Linked DNA regions of Homo sapiens. The protein of the gene in region 2 interacts with the protein of the main gene of each other region in a pairwise test. Each region holds a gene or a part of one and is shown on either strand. Other genes may lie near its edges.

The links.
Region 1: the proteins of PTPRK (region 2) and TK1 interact in a two-hybrid assay, tested with the Homo sapiens proteins (2 studies listed by BioGRID and IntAct).
Region 3: the proteins of PTPRK (region 2) and LOX interact in binary tests that used the Homo sapiens proteins (3 or more experiments, as listed by UniProt).

What each region holds. Positions count from the first base shown.
Region 1 is NC_000017.11:78,183,888-78,191,014, forward strand, and holds the start of TK1 (thymidine kinase, cytosolic), read right to left. Parts: upstream 3,166-7,127; 5' UTR 3,108-3,165; coding exon 3,042-3,107; intron 2,932-3,041; coding exon 2,900-2,931; intron 1,279-2,899; coding exon 1,168-1,278; intron 1-1,167. Other genes in the region: AFMID (kynurenine formamidase), read left to right, coding at 3,484-3,546, 7,083-7,127. UniProt on the Homo sapiens protein: Cell-cycle-regulated enzyme of importance in nucleotide metabolism. Catalyzes the first enzymatic step in the salvage pathway converting thymidine into thymidine monophosphate.
Region 2 is NC_000006.12:128,517,459-128,524,865, forward strand, and holds the start of PTPRK (receptor-type tyrosine-protein phosphatase kappa isoform b precursor), read right to left. Parts: upstream 3,142-7,407; 5' UTR 2,901-3,141; coding exon 2,801-2,900; intron 1-2,800. UniProt on the Homo sapiens protein: Regulation of processes involving cell contact and adhesion such as growth control, tumor invasion, and metastasis. Negative regulator of EGFR signaling pathway. Forms complexes with beta-catenin and gamma-catenin/plakoglobin.
Region 3 is NC_000005.10:122,068,260-122,075,259, forward strand, and holds part of LOX (protein-lysine 6-oxidase isoform 1 preproprotein), read right to left. Parts: intron 5,911-7,000; coding exon 5,754-5,910; intron 2,331-5,753; coding exon 2,235-2,330; intron 1,910-2,234; coding exon 1,794-1,909; intron 1-1,793. UniProt on the Homo sapiens protein: Responsible for the post-translational oxidative deamination of peptidyl lysine residues in precursors to fibrous collagen and elastin. Regulator of Ras expression. May play a role in tumor suppression. Plays a role in the aortic wall architecture.

The DNA.
Region 1 (7,127 bases), on a different chromosome or scaffold from region 2:
AGGGCAGCCTCTCGAGCCATCAATGCTGCTGGCCCAGCCTTGGCCTCTGTGGCCCGTGTTAGAGATGACTTGTGACACACGGGCAGAACTCATATTTAATCCCGGATCTGACTGACTCCAGAAGTTGTACTTCCAACAGCTGGAACGAAGTGACCTCCTCTGCTTTCCCTGTCCCCACCAGGTGTAACACCACCCTGTGCCGTGGACATCGCATCTTAGGAATGAGGAAGCAAATTTGGAAAAGTAAATGACCTACATCAGACAGCATGGTCACGAAGTGCGGTTAAATTCCCACATGCAACTCCAAGCCCCAAGCACCCTCCACTCCACCAGCATCTGGCTTCAGGAGCCCCTCAGCTCCCACCGAAGGCCACACGCCGGGTGGATCTGTTCTCTGCACAGCCATAGCAACTCTCGGATACAGCTCCCAGCCAGGGCTCTGAGGCTGAAGCCCTATAATGTGTGGCACAGCATGGCTTTGCCACTGGGTGCCCAGGTGGACAAGTCCAGAGGACCAAGCAAAGCGTCTCAGGCTCAGAAACATCAGGCCCACATCTGCTGCCAAGGAAGTGAATTTAACTCCCAAACTGAGGTTGCAGGCGGAAATGTCCAGCGAGCTCAAACAGCTACACATAAAACAGGGAAGCGTGAAGGCTGCCAGGTGACGGGGGAGCCAGCCAACAACGGACAACTAAAAAATTAAACAAAAATCAACGTGCAGGCCAAACCAAACCAGTCTGCAGCCTGTGTGAAGCTGAAACCCTACGGCAGAGTTTCTGAACACTGGCAGGCTCCTGACATTTGGGGCCAGCTCGTTCTTGCATGGGGGCCGTCCTCTGCACCATAGGACCCTTAGCAGCAGTGTCCCTGATTTCTACACATTAAAGCCCAAAAGCATCCCCTCCCCCCTCCAGTTGCAACAACTAGAAATGTCTTCAAACATTGTCAAATGGACCCTGGCGGCAAAATCACCCTCAGTGGAGAACCACTGGCTCCAGCCCAGGGAGTGGAGAGTGTGCGCTACCTTGCCAAGCACCTTGGAAAGTGTGCTGATTTGAATCATTCAATGTTCAAATGATTAACCATCCCCATTAAAGAGAGTCCTAACAGTGTGTCCTGTGCCTTGTGATTTTCCACTGGACAGGACTGCAGGGGGCAGGGACTGACCGGTCATGTGTGCAGAAGCTGCTGCTGTAGCGAGTGTCTTTGGCATACTTGATCACCAGGCACTTGTACTGAGCAATCTGGAAGCGACGGACGCGTCTCATCAACTCTGTGCTGCAAGAGGAGAGAGGGTCAGGTGAGGTCCACGGCGGGAGGAGTGGGAGAAGGAGACCCCTCCCCAACAAGCCTGGCTCCTCATTGTCCCTAGTGGTATGCAGACTGAGCCCACCACAGCCAGAAAAGAGCAGGGCAGAGCAGGCAGGGTATAATATCCCTACAAAGAGGGTTGGAAGTCAGAATTCTCTATGGGGAAGAGGTCCAGGAATGGTACTCAGGTGGTCCCAGGAAGTGTGGGAGGAGTAACCTTCTCCAAGATGTAGTGGGGAAGGCAGAAGCAAAGGCTACATGTAGAGGGAACCTGCGACTGCATTCCAAAGTAACCTCATCCCAGAGTTGTTCCCAGAGTTCAGAGTTTTTCTTTCTTTCTTTTTGGGGTGGAGTCTCGCTCTGTTGCCTAGGTTAGAGTGCAGTGGAGCGATCTCAGCTCACTGCAACCCCTGCCTTCCGGGTTCAAGAGATTCTCCTGCCTCAACCTCCCGAGTAGCTGGGATTACAGGAGGCTGCCACCATGCCCAGATAATTTTTGGTTTTTTTTTTCAGTAGAGATGGGGTTTTACCACGTTGACCAGGGTGGTCTCAAACTCCTAACCTCAAGTGATCAACGCACCTCAGCCTTCCAAAGCGCTGGGATTAAAGGCGTGGGCCACCACACCTGGCATACAGCTTTTCTAAATTAATTTCAGAAAGTCTTTGTGTGCAGCGTCAAAAGCACTTGCTTCTGGGTCCAAGAAGTCCAACTCTGAGCCACATCTTCCTGAGCAAGGGGTTTGAGCTGAAGTGATCCCCAGGGCCATAAAAGAATGTTGGGGCAGGGCATGGTGGCTAACATCTGTAATCCCAGCACTTTGGGATGCTGAAGTAGGAGGATTGCTTGAGACCAGGAGTTCAAGACCAGCTTGGGCAACATAGCAAGACCCCAGCTCTATAAAAATAAAATAAAATTAGCTGGGTGGAGGCGGGGGGGTGCACGCCTGTAGTCCCAGCTACTTGGGAGGCTGAGGTGAGAGAATTGCTTGAGCCCAGGAGTTTGAGACCAGCCTGGGCAACATAGCAAGATCCTACCTCTAGAAGAACAAAAACAAAACAAAAAGAATGGTGCGTGGGTAGTTTACTCAAGAAACTCACTAGCCCCACCCGGGTCAGGGAATGGTTCTATCACCTCAGGAGAGCAGAGGCTCCACGGCTTCAGACTCCTTGGTTTAGAAAGCGACTACGTTTCCTTGGCCTTAGAAGGAAACAGCCACATTGAATAGGGGTGTACAAAAAGGCCTGGCCTACAGGGGACACAACTGGTTGCCACCTTCTCAGAGGACTTGGTGGGGAAGACAGCTAAGCTGTAAGCAGCTGTCACCAGCTCCAGGAGGGAGTGGCGTCCACACAGGACGAGGGGCTTGGCCTGGGCAGAAGAGGGCAGAGACTTCCTCCTGGACTGAATTCAAGGGAGGAGCACCCCAGGCGGGAGCTGTAGGAGGCTGTGCTGGTCCTTCTAGGGGAAGGGAAGGGGAGGGAAGGGAAGGGGAGGGGAGGGGAGGGGAGGGAAGGGGAGGGGAGGGACGGGACAAGGGGTCCCCGGAGAAGAGGAAGGAGCTCCACCCCAGCCCCGCGAAGCCATTACCTTTTTCCTGAGAACATCGGCCCGAGAATCACCTAGGAGAGAAGGTGAGGTCATTTGAGGGCCCGCCCTGCGCGGATGCCTGGACACAGGCTATCACCACGACCACCTCATCCCCAGCCACGCGCAGGGCTGGCCCCCGCACCTGGATCTGCCCCCGGGTCTTGCTGGGGGAGCCAGGCAGCACAGTGGGCAGGTTAATGCAGCTCATTGCGCCTCCGGGAAGTTCACGAACCCGAGTACTCTCCAAGGCCGTCCCGCAGTAAGCCCCTGGTTCCCGCGCCGACCGCTTTAAACCACGGCGTGCTGGCCAATCACGAGCCGGCCCCGCCGCCATGGGGCCAATCAGCGCCCGGCCGCTGACCTGGCGGGAGATTTGGCCGCAGCCCGCCCCCTCGTGGGAGGAATCCGGGACGTGCGCCCAGGGACTGGGAGGGCCTGGAAATCAGGGCGATGGACGTGGCTGATCGGGGTGGGGCCTGGTCTGAGCCCCGCCTCGGTCCGCCCACCAAGTTTAAAGGGGCGGAGCGAGGCGGGGCTCTGGCCATATAAACAGAGGGACGCACGCCCATGCGGCTGTAGACGCCATGATGGATGTGTCTGGTGTGGGTTTCCCAAGCAAGGTTCCTTGGAAGAAGATGTCTGCAGAGGTAGGTGGATTGCAGGGAGGGACTAAGGGGCTGGGGCGGAGTTAGCTCATTTATTAGATTGGAATTCCAAGAAGGAAGCTTAGAAGCCGTCTAGAGCACTCCTGTGGGCATGCAGAGCGCCTAGTGCGTGCCAGGTCCCCAGTGCTTGAGCACCATGGTGTATTTTACCTTCTCCTAAGGATTTTTGTTAACCTGGTTTTCAGGATAAAGAAAATTGAAGTCCTGACTATGCTAATAATATCCGTAGACCCTGCCAGGCGTGGCGGCTCACACCTGTAATCCTAGCACTTTTGGCGGATCACGAGGTCAGGAGTTCGAGACCAGCCTGGCCAACATGGTGAAACCCCGTTTCTACTAAAAATACAAAAATTAGCCGGGCGTGGTGATGTACCTCTGTAATCCCAGCTACTGGGGAGGCTGAGACAGGAGAATCGCTTGAACCCAGGAGGTGGAGGTTGCAGTGAGCCGAGATCATGCCATTTGTACTCCAGCCTGGAAGGCTGGGCGATAGACCAAGACTTAGTCTCAAAAAAAAAAAAAAAAAAAAAAAAAAAAATCCATAGACCCGCAGGAGGTTAGGGGACAAAGTTCTGGACCTTGATCTGAGGTTACACAATGTTTTTGGGTCTGTGCTTATGTGGCACAGGCTGAAGGATTCAGAACAGCTGGTATTTACATTGGGGTTGTGAAGGTTAGAAACATACAGGCCGGGTGCGGTGGCTCAAAAAAAAAAAGAAAGAAAGAAAAGAAACCCATTGTATAATCATGATCATAAATAATAGCAACAAAGATGGTGGTAGTGATCACAGAGTGTGCCAGGTGTGGCTGTAAGGATCCTACAGGTAATAACCTTTCCAGGTACAGATTGGACAGATCCAAGGACCTCTGACAAAGAGCTCCTTCACTGGGAGGAAGAAGCAACCCACACTGACTGGCTTGCTTTATTTTACTCGCATGCTTTATCTCTTTTAACCTTGTGATTTGGATACATGCCTTCTTTTTTTGAGACACAGTCTCGCTCAGTCACCCAGGCTGGAGTGCAGTGGCATGATCTCGGCTCACTGCAACCTCTACCTCCCGGGTTCAAGTGATTCTCCTGCCTCAGCCTCCCGAGTGGCTGGGATTACAGGCACACTGTAGCTGGTACTACATGCCTGGCTAATTTTTTTTTTTTTTCTTTTGAGACAGAGTCTCGCTCTATCGCCCAGGCTGGAGTGCAGTGGCGCGATCTGGGCTCACTGCAACCTCTTCTTCCAGGGTTCACGCCATTCTCCGGCCTCAGCCTCCTGAGTAGCTGGGACTACATGCGCCCGCAACCATGCCCGGCTAATTTTTTTGTATTTTTAGTAGAGATGGGGTTTCACTGTGTTAGCCAGGATGGTCTCCAACTCCTGACCTCATGATCCGCCCCCCTTGGCCTCCCAAAGTGCTGGGTTTACAGGCATGAGCCACTGCGCCTGGCCAATTTTTGTATTTTTAATAGAGATGGGGTTTCGCCATGTTGGACAGACTGGTCTTGAACTCCTGGCCTCAAGTGATCCACCCGCCTCGGCCTCCCAAAGTGCTGAGATTACAGGTGTGAGCCACTGTGCCGGGCCTGGATAGATACCTTCTACCAGTCAGGAAACTGAATCTCAGAGACTAAGTAACTTGTTGAGGATAAAACAGTAAGTAAGTGAGGGAGGTCAGATGGCATTTGACCTCAGGCCTTGCCATGAGGCTGCCCTGACTTCCCATTTCTCATGATGGTTTTGAGCCCTTTCTTCAAAATCTGGTTCCTTGTTACTTTTTTTTTTTTTTTTTTTTGAGATGGAGTCTCGCTGTTGTCACCCAGGCTAGAGTGCAATGGTGGGATCTCAGCTCGCTGCAACCTCCACCTCCCGAGTTCCAGCGATTCTCCTGCCTCAGCCTCCCGAGTAGCTGAGATTACGGGCGCCCGCCACCATGCCCAGCTAATTTTTGTATTTTTAGTAGAGACGGAGTTTCACCATGTTGGCCAGGATGGTCTCGAACTCCTGACCTCAGGTGATTCACCCGCCTCAGCCTCCCAAAGTGCTGGGATTACAGGTGTGAGCCACCACGCCCAGTGTTTTGTTTTTTTTTTTTTGAAACAGGGTTTTGCTCTCTCAGGCTGGAGTGCAATGGCGCAATCTTGGCTCACTACAATCTCTGCTTCCTGGGCTCAAGCGATTCTCCTGCCTTAGCCTCCCGAATAGCTAGGACTACAGGTGTCCACCACCATGCCCGGTTGATTTTTCATATTTTTCGTAGAGATAGTGTTTCGCCATATTGCCCAGACTGGTCTGGAACTCCTGGACTCAAGTGATCTGCCTATCTTGGCCTCCCAAAGTGCTGGGATTACAGGCGAGAGCCACCGTGTCCAGCATTTTCTGTTGGTTTTTTTTTTTTTTTTTTTGAGATGGGGTCTCACTCTGTCGCCCAGGCTGGAGTGCAGTAGCATGATCCCGGCTCACTGCAACCTCTGCCTCCCTGGTTCAAGCTATTCTCCTGCTTCAGCCTCCTGAGTAGCTGGGATTACAGGCGCGCGTCACCATGCCTGGTTAATTTTTGTATTTTTAGTAGAAATGGGGTTTCATCATGTTGGTCAGGCTGATCTTGAACTCCTGACCTCGTGATCCCGCCTCCGCCTCCCAAAGTGCTGGGATTACAGGCGTGAGCCACCGCGCCCAGCCTCTGTTTTTTTTTTTCTTTTTTTAATTCTCCAAACTGCCTCAGAATGGTTCCTTGTTACTTTCTGCATAAAGTGTGAAGGTGTTAGCCCGACATTCACCGCCCCTCCTCCTCCAGCCCAGCCTCCCAGCCTCACCTCTGTGTGTCAGCCATAGGGCCTGCCAGCATTTGCAAACTGACCTTTCATTCCTTCCTCCTCACCTCTGTGCCTTTGACTGTGCAGTGACCTCCTGTGGTCAGAATCGCACCCTCTCAGCGCAGATCAGCTCCTCCTTTTTTAATTTTTTTGAGGTAGAGTCTTGCTCTGTCGCTAGGCTGGAGTGCAGTGGTGCGATCTCGGCTCACTGCAACCTCCACCTCCCAGGCTTAAGCAATTCTCCTGCCTCAGCCTCCCAAGTAGCTGGGATTACAGGTGCACACCACCACGCTCGGCTAGTTTTTGTTTTCAGTAGAGATGGGGTTTTGCCATGTTGGCCAGGCTGGTCTCAAACTTCTGACTTCAAGTGATCCACCTGCCTCAGGCTCCCAAAGTGCTAGGATTACAGGCGTGAGCCACCGGGCCACCTGGCCTCCCCTGGTCGTAACTGCTGTGGGAGTGGTGCCCATGATGGCATTAACTGAATTCGTTTGGGGGACCTCATCTCCCCTTAAGGCTGCCAGCTGGCTAAAGGCACAGCGGTCGCTGGTATACCTCTAGACCATGGATCTGAGGGCATCTTGGAGACCCTGGGATACTGGGGCGAGGGCTTCTAAGGCAGAGAGGAGCAGCCGGGCATGGGCGAGGGGGAGGGGCACACTCTGTTGAGAAGGAAAGTCTTACGGAGCCTCATGTTTGTGCCCTGCAGGAGCTGGAGAATCAGTACTGTCCCAGCCGATGGGTTGTCCGACTG
Region 2 (7,407 bases):
TATTCTTCTATGCCTCGGTTTCCTCAGATATGACATGGGTGTCATTTTAAGTGAGAGGTGAAACTGAAAGAATGTATGAGTTGGGATTTACAGAACGTTCTGGTTTTAAAGAGGCTCACAGTGCAGCAGTTTTACACTTTAACTGCAAAAGCTAAGAAAAAAGTCACAATAATGAAAACACTCTTACATTTTTGGTTTAAACAAAGAAAACTGAATAAGTATATGACACATCAAAGTCCCAACAATGCTCAGCCTTTCAAAATTTGCTTTTGAAGCTTACTACATTAGGAACCACATGATATCGGAAAGTAAACTGATCTTAATGAGTATGATTTGAAAGACATACTTCAGATATTTTTAAATTCTCAACATGAATTTGTCTTGGACTTTTAAAGTGGGTTTATTTAAATTTCTCAAAAGGAATAAAAGTTCACTAGTTAAAGTAAAATATAAGAAAAACCAGCAATATGGAATACACCTCCAATCTTCAATACATCTCTAATCTATGTCTGCAACAAATCTGACTGCCATAGAATTTTATGACAATAAAATATCAAATGATTTATGGTAGCCAGAAAAAAAAGGAAGTATTTACAAAACAAACTTATAATTTGTGGAGAAAGGCAAATCCACAATCTGACTTTAAACTCTGGGAATAAAAGACATTCATTTCTGGGCATACATTCCTAAAGGGCAAAATCTTGAGATGCAATCCTGTGATTACTGTACTTTTTAGGAATGCACATTATATTAATTAAATATACAACATCATGTCAAATGTTATGCTTTGTCACTAAAGAAAAGCCAGGCATATTTAGTTAAAGTACTTAGAACTAGATATCTAAGAACACAATTGTTTATTGTACGTATCTAAACTCCAGGTATCAGAAAAGCTCATTTTCACATTCAGCTGGAGGAAAAGTAGTATTTATTTGTTAATTAAAGGGTAAATAACATTTAAAAAGAGAAAAAGTTTTCTAACTGCTGAAAATATATCCATCGCTGTTGAGACATTAATAGTTGCAACTCTTGAATACATGTAAGTTTAATTATGCAACTGGTAGAGTTCAAACTTTCAATTAACAAACTACAAGCCTTTTCAAGCGTAGGCTCTCCGTGCAGTGACAAACACTGTGCAGAAATCAATACTCACTCCAACTTGCCTGCATATAATGAGTTACATCAAGCACGGTTTCAATGCTAACGGGCATTATATGTCAGAAATGCATGCAGTAATGCTTACTCCAGAAAGAATTCAATTAAACCATTGGATTATTTTTTGCATAGAGCTGTTACCCTCTGCGTACATCAATTATATACAGGGCTTTTCCTCTGCGTGCTGCCATTTCATAATCTCTGCCTGAATGTACGACACATGCTGCCACCTGAATCTGTTGTTTAACTCCCTTTACAGAGTTCTAAATGGGGCGGGGGTAGGAGAGCAATGGAAGGGAAATAAACGATTACTCCAGAAAACAACAATTTGAGTTTATTTCCAGGAAACAGGGCCTCCACAACAACGTGAGAAACTGTCAGGTACAAAGTAAGTTATTTGCGTCCTGCGGCTTCAGCCAGGAGCGTGGCTGTCGCTTTTCCCGTCTTCTCCATCACCCTCTGGCCACCACTGCGTCTCCATCTGCACCGCGAACCCCAGCAGCAGATGCGCTCGCCAGCCAAGCGAAGCTGGGTAGGTTGGCCAGAAAAGTTGTCAGGACTGGCGGGAGGTAGACAAGTGCTCGGGAGCCCGCTCCCCAGCGTCCACCTGGTGAAACTTCAGAGCCCCCAGAGGAGAGAACGAAAGAAGCAACCAACCTACACGAAGGATAACAAAACTGGAGGGGAACAGAGGGCGGGACCGGGAGAGCCAGGGTTCACGGACTTCTCTGAGCGGCTTGACCGAGAACCCCCAGGGCTACAGCGAGACGCTCCACTTGTCTCCTTTTGGGTTCTCCGGCAGAAGGCAGACATTTACAGTCCGCTTCCAGCCCCAGGCCGGATCCGGGGAGCGCGGGGCCAGAGCCCCAGGCCGGATCCGGGGAGCGCGGGGCCAGCCTGGCGGTGGTTTTGCCCGAGGAGCGGGCTCCCACGCGCGAGTCAGGCTTCCTCCACCAGGCGCCCAGACCTCGATGCCCATGAACGCTCAGAGTGGGTCCTTAGAACCGCATTTCAACACATCTTACAGGGCTCCGCCAACACACACACAGAACATGCTCCAAGCAGTGCCCGAGCGCACAGGGCAAGCCCGGGAGCAACCCAGAGCTGGGGGAGGAGAAAAGGGGACTCCGGGAGGGACGGGGAAGTAGTTAGACAATAGTCAGGGGAGGTTATTCCCGGGACAAAAAGCACCTGGCAAAGCGCGCCGAGGTCAGTCCCTTCGAATCTCCACATTTCTGACAATGGCTTCCCAGGGAATTTGTTTAAACACCCAAGTGGCAGACAGCAACAAACCCGCACCACAAGCAACAGAGTGCCGTCACGGGAGTCGTAACTACTTTTTCTTTCTCTCTTCCCCACTAGCCCGGCGCAGGCCACGCGAGACGCCGAAGCCAGCAGGTCCCCACACTCTCCGGCTAGACCGTGCCAGCCTGAGCCCCGAGCAAGCTTCGGAGAGGAACAATGGGTGCCCCGCGTCCCACCTGGCACGAACTCTGGGGACAGCCCTCCCTCTACCCTGTGTTCCCCACCCCCGGACAGAGAGAGCTCCCCACGATCCTTGTCCCCAGCCCTAGCGGGGACCTGGCTCACCCCTCGTGAGCCCAGGACTCCAGGCGTTCGTCGGGGACGCCCCCCGGCCACTCACCTGCGGAGAACTGGCCTTGGGCCGATCCCAGGAGAGGCCAAGGAGAGAGGAGCAAGAGCGCCACAAAAGCAGGCAGCGCCGCCGCCGCAGTCGTATCCATGCCGAGTTTGGGAGAAGTTTCAAGCAGCTTTGCAAAGAGCTGCCGGGGGGATCGCCGCGAAATCCACGACGGAGGAGCGGGCCGGGCCTCGCGGGGTGAGGACGGTGAGAGGACAGCCGCCCGCCCGCCCTTTTTCCTTCTTCGCGGTCGCCAAACTACCTCAGGGGCGAAAGCGTCGCCAGCGTCGCCGGCCGGCCGCGGCGGCAGCTCTCCATGCTCGGCGGAGGCTGCTCCTGTTAGTCAAGAGTTACTTTGCTCGGGGAGGGACGGGGGCGGAGCCGGGGGTGACGTCGCCCCGCGGGCTCCGGGCGCTTCTGAGGAATGCGGGCTCGGGCGCGGCGCCGCCACCGCCTCCTGCCGGAGAGACGCGCGCCAGCCCCGGCCGCGCGCCCCGCGCCGCCTTTGTTCGCAGCCTGGGCCCCGCCGCCAGCCGCTGCTCGGAGGGAGCGAGCGAGAAAGGGGAGCCGGCGCAGCTCGCTGCCCTGTTCCAGAACTCAGAATTTGAGAGGCGAGAGTTCGGTAAGCCGTGCGACCAGACGACCGAGGACGCGCGCAGAGAAACCCCCGCCGTCCGAGGAGAGGCGTCCTGGGGTTCCGTCCCAAGGTGGAGGTCCCCCCGAGCGGTTGCTGATTGAAAGGGGAGTGTGGAAGCGCCCTGAGGAAACACCCGCCTGCCTTGAAAACTCCCCGTTCCTTATTCTTGTAATAAGGAATAAGACACCCCACCCCCATCGAAAACTTGTCCCTTATTCATAGAATAAATAAAACTTGAACCAGAATAAACGATCAGTAACTTTCCAGCGTGAACAGCTGGCGTGTCTCCTTTCTGGTTTATTTGTCATTGGCCAAGTATTTGGATTTACTCTGCTTCACTGACTTTGCTTGTTGCTCTGAAACCCTCCGGCCCCTTTCCAGTTCTCACCTAAGAACTGCATCAGGGCTTATTATCCCTTCCTTGCACCTAGGTCTGGTGTGTGTGTGGTTTTGTTTTTTTTAATATCTAGTAGGTAGTTAAGACATAAGTATTTAACAAAAGGACTTTTACACTGACCATGAAAACAGCTTCTTCGGAATGATTCATCTGGCAGAAAATAATGCTATATTATGACAGTAAAATATTTCACAGTTAACTACTTCAGCAGCTTGAAGTGGTTTCGCCATATGCCACCCTGCCTTACTTCTGTGGTAAGACTGTATGGTGCATACTTTATTCATTTTTGTAAAATGTCACAAAAAATAGGTATGGTCACAATTGAATAACATAATAACTTTGATTCAGAATTTTTATGTGTTATGTACAATTGCTAAAACAATAGTCTGTTGATTGACATCTCTCAGTTTCTCAGACATCTTAGCCTTTGTAAATCAAGACAATGTGAAATTCATTTTAATATAACATTCACATAATTTACCAAGCCACATATTCTTTTAATCAAATATATGCTATTAATGACCAGACTTATGACAGAGCCTGTGGAAACAAAAATGTAATAAATATACACACAAATATATACATATATAAATACATATTATACACACATACATATCAGGCAGAAAAGACTTTTAAAAATTCTATGAGAATAGTAGCCTGCTCATTAGCACACTGACTAGCTCAACCCTTGTCAATTCAGTTCAGCATAGTTAAGTTCATCCTTCCTTAGGGTGCAATGTAGATTTTTTTTTTTTAACTCATTAACCTATACCTTTCAACACACCATCACCATTCCATTTCTTTAATTAGAGAACATTCCTAGATCCCAGGTAACAAAAAACTGAGGGACATATTTTTCTTTTTGAGGACAGCAGAACTTCCTAAAATTTAGCAGCAATTTTTCCCAGTAAAAACAAACAAAACCCTACTGTCTGTATACTAATTCATCTGTTCTACTCTTGTAAGAAATGTAAAAGAAGTTCATGACGTGGTAATTTGTTTGTTTAAACACACAAACAAAAAACTTCTTTAAATATTTTCACACAGTGCCAGGACAAAGTGCACACAATTCTTACCTTGCCCATTTTGGGGGACAGCTGATAGAAGATTCATTTCATGAAACTTTATTAATTTCTCTATCATGGAAGTAATAATAATAGCAGGTAATGTTTAGAAAGTTCTTCAAATGTTCTAGGCACTGTCTTAGAGTATACAATGTCACACTGAGACATCAAGATTTTCAGTGTTTCATTGAGTTCAGTCAACAATTCCGTGAAGACTTTGGTACAATTATTCCCATTTGACAAATAAGAAAACAAGGTTATAGATTAAGTAACTTACCCAAAGACACATACTTAAGTGAGAAGTGGGGGAGGCGATGCAAAGAGAAGAAAGGAAATTCTCAAAAGAAATCAGCAAACCAACACAGATGGTTTCTCACTAAAAATCAAAAGCATGCAATAAAACTTTTAGGTAAGTACATTATTCCTTTTGTGCATAACTAATGCGACCAGTATGGATTGAAATCACTTGAGTAGAAATCTGGTGGGTCTTCTACATAGCTAAGTGCGTGGCAAATATTAGGAATTAGTAGATTTTTGTTTGTTTGAAAGAATAAATGAATACATGAATCAATAGAAGTATAAATTTGGTTAAACTTTTAGGAAAAGAAATCATCAGCCTGCATTAAAAATCACTAAAATCTTCCTATTCTTTAGTCTAGAAGCTATTGCAAGTAAATAATCCAAAATATGAAAAATGTTATTTAATATGTTTATCATTTCAAAAGAGAAAGAATATAAATATTCTACAATAGGCAGATTCATAAGCATTATATGGTAGAATATCTCATAGCCACTAGAAATGAAAGTTATGAAAAAAGTAAATTGCAAGATGGAAAAATGCTTATGATCAAATGTTGGGTAAAATCATCAGAAGACAATACAGAGTTTCAGTTTAGAAAGATAAAACTGTTCTGGAGAGGGATGGTGGTAATAGTTGCCTAACAACATGAATGGACTCAATGCCACCAAATTACATACTCAATAATTGTTAAAATGATAAAGTTTATGCTATGTATATTTTACAACAATAAACAAAAACAGAAGACAAAGGTCTTTGTACTATAACCAAGAAAAAAAGAAGGCTGAAAAAAATTACAAAACATAGTATTAATATAGTTAGCAATAGATGTAGTATACTAAAATTTTATGGGAGCTCTTCTCTATTTTCCTATTGTTTTGGCCTATGGTTACATTATTTCTTTTAAAAGAGGACAGCTTTGTGTTCTGATTGCAGATCTACCACACACTAACTCCAATCATAATCTTAGATCTGCATTTGGCAAGTGTTTTCTGTAGAATCCCAGTTCTATCAGATTTAAATAAGTATAATTCAAAAATACAGCCTCAAGATTAAATTAGCTCGGAGAACTCTGGACTGAGCAAAGTTTAACAGATTTCTTCAATATAGCAAGCTTCTTTATTATAGAATCTTTCCCATGGTTTCCGATATGGTATCATGTGCTATAAGTCTATTGGAGAAGGAAAAAGAATTCATTGTTTCTCAAAGTTTTGGACCATAGAACGCTTTAATAGAGGAGTAGGTCTCAGGACCAGGGTTCCAGGGAACAGAATTTGGGAACATTGCATTAAACAACATTTAATACCACCGTATCTTAATTTCCTTTTTGTGAAAATGAAGTAATAATATTTTTATAGGATTAAATTATATATCTATCTATCTATATATATATATCTATCTATATATATAGATAGATAGATATATATATATATATACATTTTCTTTTCTTGTAGAGCTGCAGATTTGCTTGTAAGTATAGACATGAGGCCAGGCACGGTGGCTCACGCCTGTAATCCCAGCACTTTGGGAGGCTGAGGCGGGCGGATCACGAGGTCAGGAGATCAAAACCATCCTGACCAACATGGTGAAACCCTGTCTCTACTAAAAATACAAAAATTAACTGGGCATGGTGGCATGTACCTGTTGTCCCAGCTACTCGGGAGGCTGAGGCAGGAGAATCACTTGAACCCAGGAGGTGGAAGTTGCAGTGAGCCAAGATTGTGCCACTGCACTCCAGTCTGGCAACAGAGCGAGACTCCATCTCAAAAAAAAAAAAAAAAAAAGCATAGACATGAAAGGGCCTGGTTGATAACAGCTGCTAAATGTTATTTTCCTTGTCTTGTTCACTAAAGGACTATGCACAAACTTGTACTGAGCGGAAGCAAGGTTTTATTTACCCAGTGGCAGATCATGAGTGTACACACAGCATGTATTTATAAGCAATTAGATAATATTCTCAGCTTGTTAATAATAACTAACTGCTTATATTACGCTTTTTAGTTTGTAAAGCATATTCACCCACATGAATATGATGGATCATGATCTATCCTCACTCCAACTCTGTGAAGGAGGCAAGGCAGGTATGATTAATTTCACTTAACTGAGGAGGAAAATCAAAGCTTAGAGCAATTAAAATACCTGCCCAAGGTTATGCTGCTAGCTAATAGCAGGATTGTAACTCTGACCTGGGGTCTTCGGATTCTAAATCTGATT
Region 3 (7,000 bases), on a different chromosome or scaffold from region 2:
TACAACAATTTTTATTTCTTCTAAATATCTAGCAATACCCAATTCAATGGATTCTACTGATTAAAAGCAAGAGACATTCTATGCAACAGACCTCTCCAGACCTATTTCTAGTGGGAAGTCAGTAAGACATAGTTGGGAGTTACCAAACTTATAGCAAAGGTCCTTCTGATCTCACCACATTTTATTTTATCCCTCATGAAACTTCTCATATTGTATCTCTATTACAGTTATATGTGTAATTCTCTCACTTCCCCTACTCAAAATGCCTTTACTCAAATTATTTGAGAAAGAAATTCATTAAGCAGTGAGTGAGAGGCTGCAAGGTGGCAGACCTGTACCTGACAATGGGTATACAACAGTGGACAAGAGACTAAATCACAGCCATCACTGAGTAGAGCAGGAGACAGACATTAAACAAAGAAATTCATAAGTAATTAACTGAAAATAGTGTAATAAGGCTACAGCAGTATAGAGATTAGTAGTCCTATTTATGTTTGCATTATTCAGTAATATCTAGCTCAGGGCATCAACAAACAGTACAAAAATGAGAGTGCAAATGAATAAATAAATGGAGAATGGATGAATAAATTAAGGAATTATAAAAATTAAGAAAAAACTAATCTGTTTATTTAAGTGCAAATTATTTTAGCTTAAATTATAATGGTGTTCTGGCGGTGGGGGTCGGGGGTTGGTTCTACTATAACCAACTCCACACAATATGGGCCATAAAACCTGCCAGGTTTTCTGTGCTGTGGGCATGTTCAGAAGAATGTATGTGACTCTGTTTTTTCAGTGCTATCCTTTTGCTATCACAGGCTTCATCTATCTCTAATGTTGTGACAACACTTGTAAAGCACAGTCTCTGCTTCTTTATGTAGAAAGTCCTGGGTTTTTGTATCAGGCAGAAATTTCTATTAATTATGAGATTCTAGTATAGCTCTGCTATACCTGTCTGTATGATCCAGTGGCACTGGTGGTTCTCCAGTGACAAAGCAAAGCTGATGAGTGTTGAGTATCATTCCAATGGAAATAGTATTCTCATTGTTGGGAAGGCATAACTCAAGTGGCATATGTAATTATAATCTAGCACCCAGCAACACTTGGGGAGGTAGTGCTTAAGGAGATGGGGCAGGACAGACAGGCATGCAGTCAAACCTACCCAACCTTTTTTCATTATTTTCATCAGAGCACCTCCCTGTGAATAGATATCTTCCAGTATTTCATTCTAAGAAGAGTCTCAGGAGTAGGAATATTATGAAGAAACCTCCACACACCTCAATCTTTTGCAGAGTATTTTCCTAGTATCAATGGTTCTAGAACTCAAATATATGACATCTTGATTTGTACAGACCAGAGGGGGCTGAACTCTTCAGTTGCTTACTTTATGGCAGTGGTTTTCAAAATGTACTTTGAAGAACCCTAGCAATTCTTTCAGGGACTGCGAGGAAGGGGCCAAGAAGCAACTACTGGGGCTTCTACAAGCTCACCCACTCTACATATTGAGCAATTTGATATATTGGGCCTTCACAAATGCCTTCTGGGTAAACACTGTGGTCTGTTTATGTCTTCTCCTGAAAACTAAGCTTCTCCTGAAAACTAAAAACCTTAGTACATTCTCCTTTGCCTTCCATTATTTAAAAAAATAAAATCAGACTGCATACCATTTTCTGCCTTTGGTCTGCTTACAAGAAAGCTGCTGTAGTAGCAGAAACAGATACATTCTATGTATAATGTTTGGCATGAACAAAAATTATTTGTGACAACAATTACTTAGCTAAGCAAATAACACTTACGGTGAAATTGTGCAGCCTGAGGCATACGCATGATGTCCTGTGTAGCGAATGTCACAGCGCACAACATTGTTGGTATAGTCAGATTCAGGAACCAGGTAGCTGGGGTTTACACTGACCTGGGCAACACAAAGAGTTCCTCAGTATTTCTTTTTCCATAGGGCTACAATAAGGAAATTGTTAATGAGGACTTAGCTAAATCAAGCAGGGAAGGGATTTTAACTTAAGTAAGTGGTTAAACTCTGGAGACGTTATGGAAAGAGACTGCATATTTTCCCCTGAAGTTCTTTAAAATAAGACAGATTAGATTAGATTAGATTGTTTATAAATAGTTTGAGGATGTATAATTGCTTCCAATACCATGATTATTTAACATTTGAATCCAGAGAAGAGGGCCTATTGATCTGCAATATCAATATATGATATATTTTCAAAGGTCTTTACCTTTAGGATATAGTTTCCAGGTTTTACATCTGTAATATCAATCCACTGGCAGTCTATGTCTGCACCATAGGTATCATAACAGCCAGGACTCAATCCCTAAGATAAACAAAATAAAAAATTTAAAATTATGGTATGTGGTCAGACTATGATAAATAATATGCTATTATTTGCAAATTAAATTTTAAGTTAGTACTTACAAGAGTCTGACATAAAACTATACTTATATTTCATCTCCCTTGAGAAGTATTTATTACTCAGCCTTATAGCACCTCCAGCTAAAAAAGATACAGGACTAATATAAGTAGTAGTACACCTCACTTCTTAAAAGTGTCATATATCACCAGAGATAAATGCAATCTGAAGGAACAAAATAGGCCTCTACCAAAGTTCTAGAATTTTAACAGTTCAGGAATAAAGGCCACATAATAATTATCTTAGCTCAAATGTCCTCTTCTCAGTGAAATCCTCCCCAGTTTCCCCTTTTGGAAATTACCTTCTTGTGCTTTGAACGTCCATGATACTTTTTATTGTGGATAGCTTTTACAGTGTTTATCCCTTTTTGCTCTGCATTATAACATGCTATGTAAGAATATAGCTAACCAGAGGCTGCAAGTTCCCTAAGGGTAGAGTTTACGTTGTATCTTTGAATAACTAACATTTATTAAATAGTATGTGGCAGGAACAATCGTAAACATTTATATGTGTGTGTGTGTGTGTGTGTGTGTGTATAAAAATTCAATTTTCACAACTACATGAGGGGCTATTATCTCCATTTTATAGATGAGAAAACTAAGGCACACTAAGATCAAATAACTTACCCAAGGGTATCCAGCCTAGTAAGTGGCTAAGCTGGTTTTGAGTTTAGGTAATCAAGGTCCAGAGTCCCTGTTCTTAACTACCCCACTATACTCTCTCTCATACAGTCACTGAAATATGACATATTTTGTTGAAGGGGTAAATGCATGACTAAATTGATGAATGCCACATCACTCCACTTGCTAAAATATTCACATCAATAAGTAAATGAATGCCTTCTACAGGCTGGGAGGAGAAAAATATAACAAATACAATCCTTGCTTTTAAGAATGTTATAGTCTAGAGAAGTTTCCTCAGATTGGAGTCTGTAGGTATATTCTTGATTCCATTAGTTCTTCACAAAAAGTTTTAACTTGTATTTTTATTCTAATAGTAATTTAAATTCAAAGTACATGCTAGATTCATTTTAACTCAATACTGCCATTCAATTCTAGCAACCAATATTGCTTTGCTGTTTAAGATCACTTTGGTCACCCAAGAGACAGTAAAATCACCTTAGCATGCTCTACCAATGCTGGTTTAGCTGTAGCTTGATTTGGGAAGAGCAGGGGAGAATTGTGCTGTCATAGAGCACACAATAGCACAGACAGGCCCAACTCAGAAGGGTCAGTGTCACAGCAGTGAGACTCATATTCTGTTGTTATTATCTAGATTCCTACCTTGATCCATACATCACTTAACAGTATGTTGAGTAGTAAATATAAAATGAAGAATTTTTGGTCTGATTCCAGCATACAATTCTGATTCTGGCATATAATACATACTCAATAAGTGCTAGTTATTACTTCTACTACTACCACAATGTTCATGACATTGTAAAGGATTCACTGGATTAGATATTCATTTAAGATGGGTTTACATAATGCTTCAGTGCTTATCTTGCCTTCAAATAGACAAAAGAGCCTTAAAAATGCTGAAATTGGCACTCGAGTTCATAAGCTGGCAGAACTTAAGTATAAGCTTTGATTATTTGCACAAGCAAGCAAAAACGAGTTACTAAGGCAAATAGGCATTTCATGTAGGCAAAGTCAAAATATAAAAACAGATTCAATGTTGAATGTTAGCTGAGGCTCTCTAAATCAGCAATTTGAGTTTTAGCAATACATACTATTTGTTACATTAAATTAATAAGGTGAATTCAACTGTTTTAGTTTCGTATATATTTAATATGTAAATTTTTGTCTCAGAACACAAGAGTTATTAATATGTAAAAGTATAAATCTAAAGAAGTTATACCTAGTTTTATGCTTGAATACATTTAAGCAGCATTACAATAAACTAATCTGAGTCATCATTAGGTGATTGAGAGACTATTTTTTCCTTTAAATGAAGTCCATGTGAAAGAGACATTGATCTAATGAAAAAAACAAATATATAAATCGCTCAATGCAAGATTTGGTGAATAATGGTTAAAAAGAACATATATGGAAGATGATTAACAAGAAAGCTACCATATAAAATGAAATGGGGTCACCCCAAAGAAGGGGGGGAACCAGAAGTGCTATAATGTCTACAATCCCAGCTTCAAATATTTCAGAGTGAGCTGTCCAGAGTGCCTCTTTTTGTAAATGGGGCAAATAAACTCTAGGTCCCTTGCACAGGACTTGCAGATCACTGAAAAGGGAATCTGTATATGCACACATGAATAATGTGTGGGTAAGTTACATCTCCTCTTTCTTAAGTAAGTACTGTCCTGGGGCATGTAGAAGTTAACCTTTCCCCCTCCAATTGCTATGATGTTCTAAGCTCAGAGAAAAAAGCAATGGTAACATTTAGGTCACCAAACAGCTTCCTGCCACAGCCCTGGAATTTGCTTCCCAAGATGCCAACTGCTGATCCCTTCATACCCTCAGTTATGTACATTCACTACCCCTTGCCAAGATCTGGGCGGGAGTCAAATTATAATGTCCTTTTACAAATTAGGGTTTCATATGGAAATACTGACATAGATTTTAACTGACACGCATTTTCCAATGATAAAACATGCAAACTGCTTAGTTCAGCACTACTTTAAAAAAATCCATCCAAACAACATCTGACATCAATTATACTGTAGATTTAAATATATATGTGTGGAGAAAGAAATGGTGTCCTTCTGCTCTTATTTGCATTATTAAAAGAGGCAACTTTTTAAAGTGCTTTTAAAGAAACTTATTTTTCCTCCATTTGCTAACCGCAACCACTATTCTATTTTCAGCATAAAACAGAAGGAAGGAATGGTTTCACAGGTGAAAAAACAGAGATATCTTTTTTTACAGTTATTTACTAAGCCGGTTAAGGAATACAGAATGGGTGCATATGTTGTCAACCATTCAGACTTTTTCAGAGAGTAAATTTTTGTTCTTCATTGTGGACTGTAACAAGGACCCACACTGACCTGTGATCATGAATAGGGGCCACATGCATAACTGGAAATACTTCAAAAGTAATTTGGATCATCAAGCCATCATTTGCCTTTTCCCAATTATTTTACATCTTAACAACATGGACCTCAAATTGAATGCTTTATAAAAGAGAGGTGAGAGGAAAGAAAATACTAGACTCATGGGGTATATCATCTACAGTTTTCTTTGAGAACAGTCTCTGTATCCTTTTGATAAAAATGTGTGTGCTCTTCATGAAATGCTATTTAATGCTAACTAACGGTAGATGACCCGTTTCTCTCTGAGGCTTGAGGTTCTGGATTTCAGGGTGCCAACATACCTGTGTGTGTGCAGTACATGCAAATCGCCTGTGGTAGCCATAGTCACAGGATGTGTCTTCAAGACAGAAACTTGCTTTGTGGCCTTCAGCCACTCTCCTCTGGGTGTTGGCATCAAGCAGGTCATAGTGGCTAAACTCATCCATACTGTGGTAATGTCTGATGTCCCACAAAACAAAAAGATGGTGGTCAGTTACATACAGAGAAAGCAATGAAGATATTAAATGACTTCCCCCATGGCTTCACAAATTTGTTTTCACATTAAAATTGAGACCAAATTTATCTTCTAAAAGAGAGATTCATGCTAGGGTTTTTTTTTCCCCAGGACATAAGTCTATCAAAATTGTAAGGTTTAACTTTGCTACTAGGACAAAAGACTTAGTTCAGTATTTTGCTTTCTTATTGTACCCCATTTTGTCTTTGAATATTAAATAGAAATGGACAATAAATTATCTGTGCTTAAGTGAAACTTGCCCTGTGTTCTCTAGTGTATTCCCCTTGGCTGCCACTGCTGATGTTTCATTCCGAAAAGCAGCACATGACTTTTTCAAGGTTTCTATGAGATTTTAAAAAATTGAGTTCTCACATATTTAAAATCATTAGTGAAAAGCAAGGGAGAACTCATGGCATGTTTTATCCACCATTATTATTTAAATAGTACACACTTTTATTTAGAAATAAAATATTCCTATTTTATCAGGAAATTAAGGGACTTATATCTACTTTTGTTATTTCATTAAATGGAAGGTGCTGAGCTGTTCATCTTCCCACATAAGGAAAAAACAATGAGGACTGGCTTGGATTTCAGGAAGTAAGTTTAAGGCCACACATGAGGATTTCCTGAAAATAAACACCCAGGCAAGTTACTAAGGCAAATGATAGAATTACCTTATGCAAAAATCCTTAAATTTAGGATAGAAAAGGCAACCACCTTGGGCTTGATACAGGTCTTTTAAAAGATGGAAGAAGGTCCTTCTGAGCTGATGGGATGTATCATCTACATCTTTCTTTGAGAATGGTTTCTGAATGCTTGTGATAAAAAACGTGTGGTCTTTATGAAATGCTATTTAATGCTAACTAACTTTAGATGATCTTGGCTGTAATGGACTTTTAAAGAAATCCTATCTGTAATGCATTGGAGTAAATTTTATTGAAGTCAATTGCTGTATCCTATCAACAGCTTTAATAAGCTGGGCTTCAGATTTTCCATTTCAAAAGATAACAGGATCTTGTAGTAGATGGGTTATGT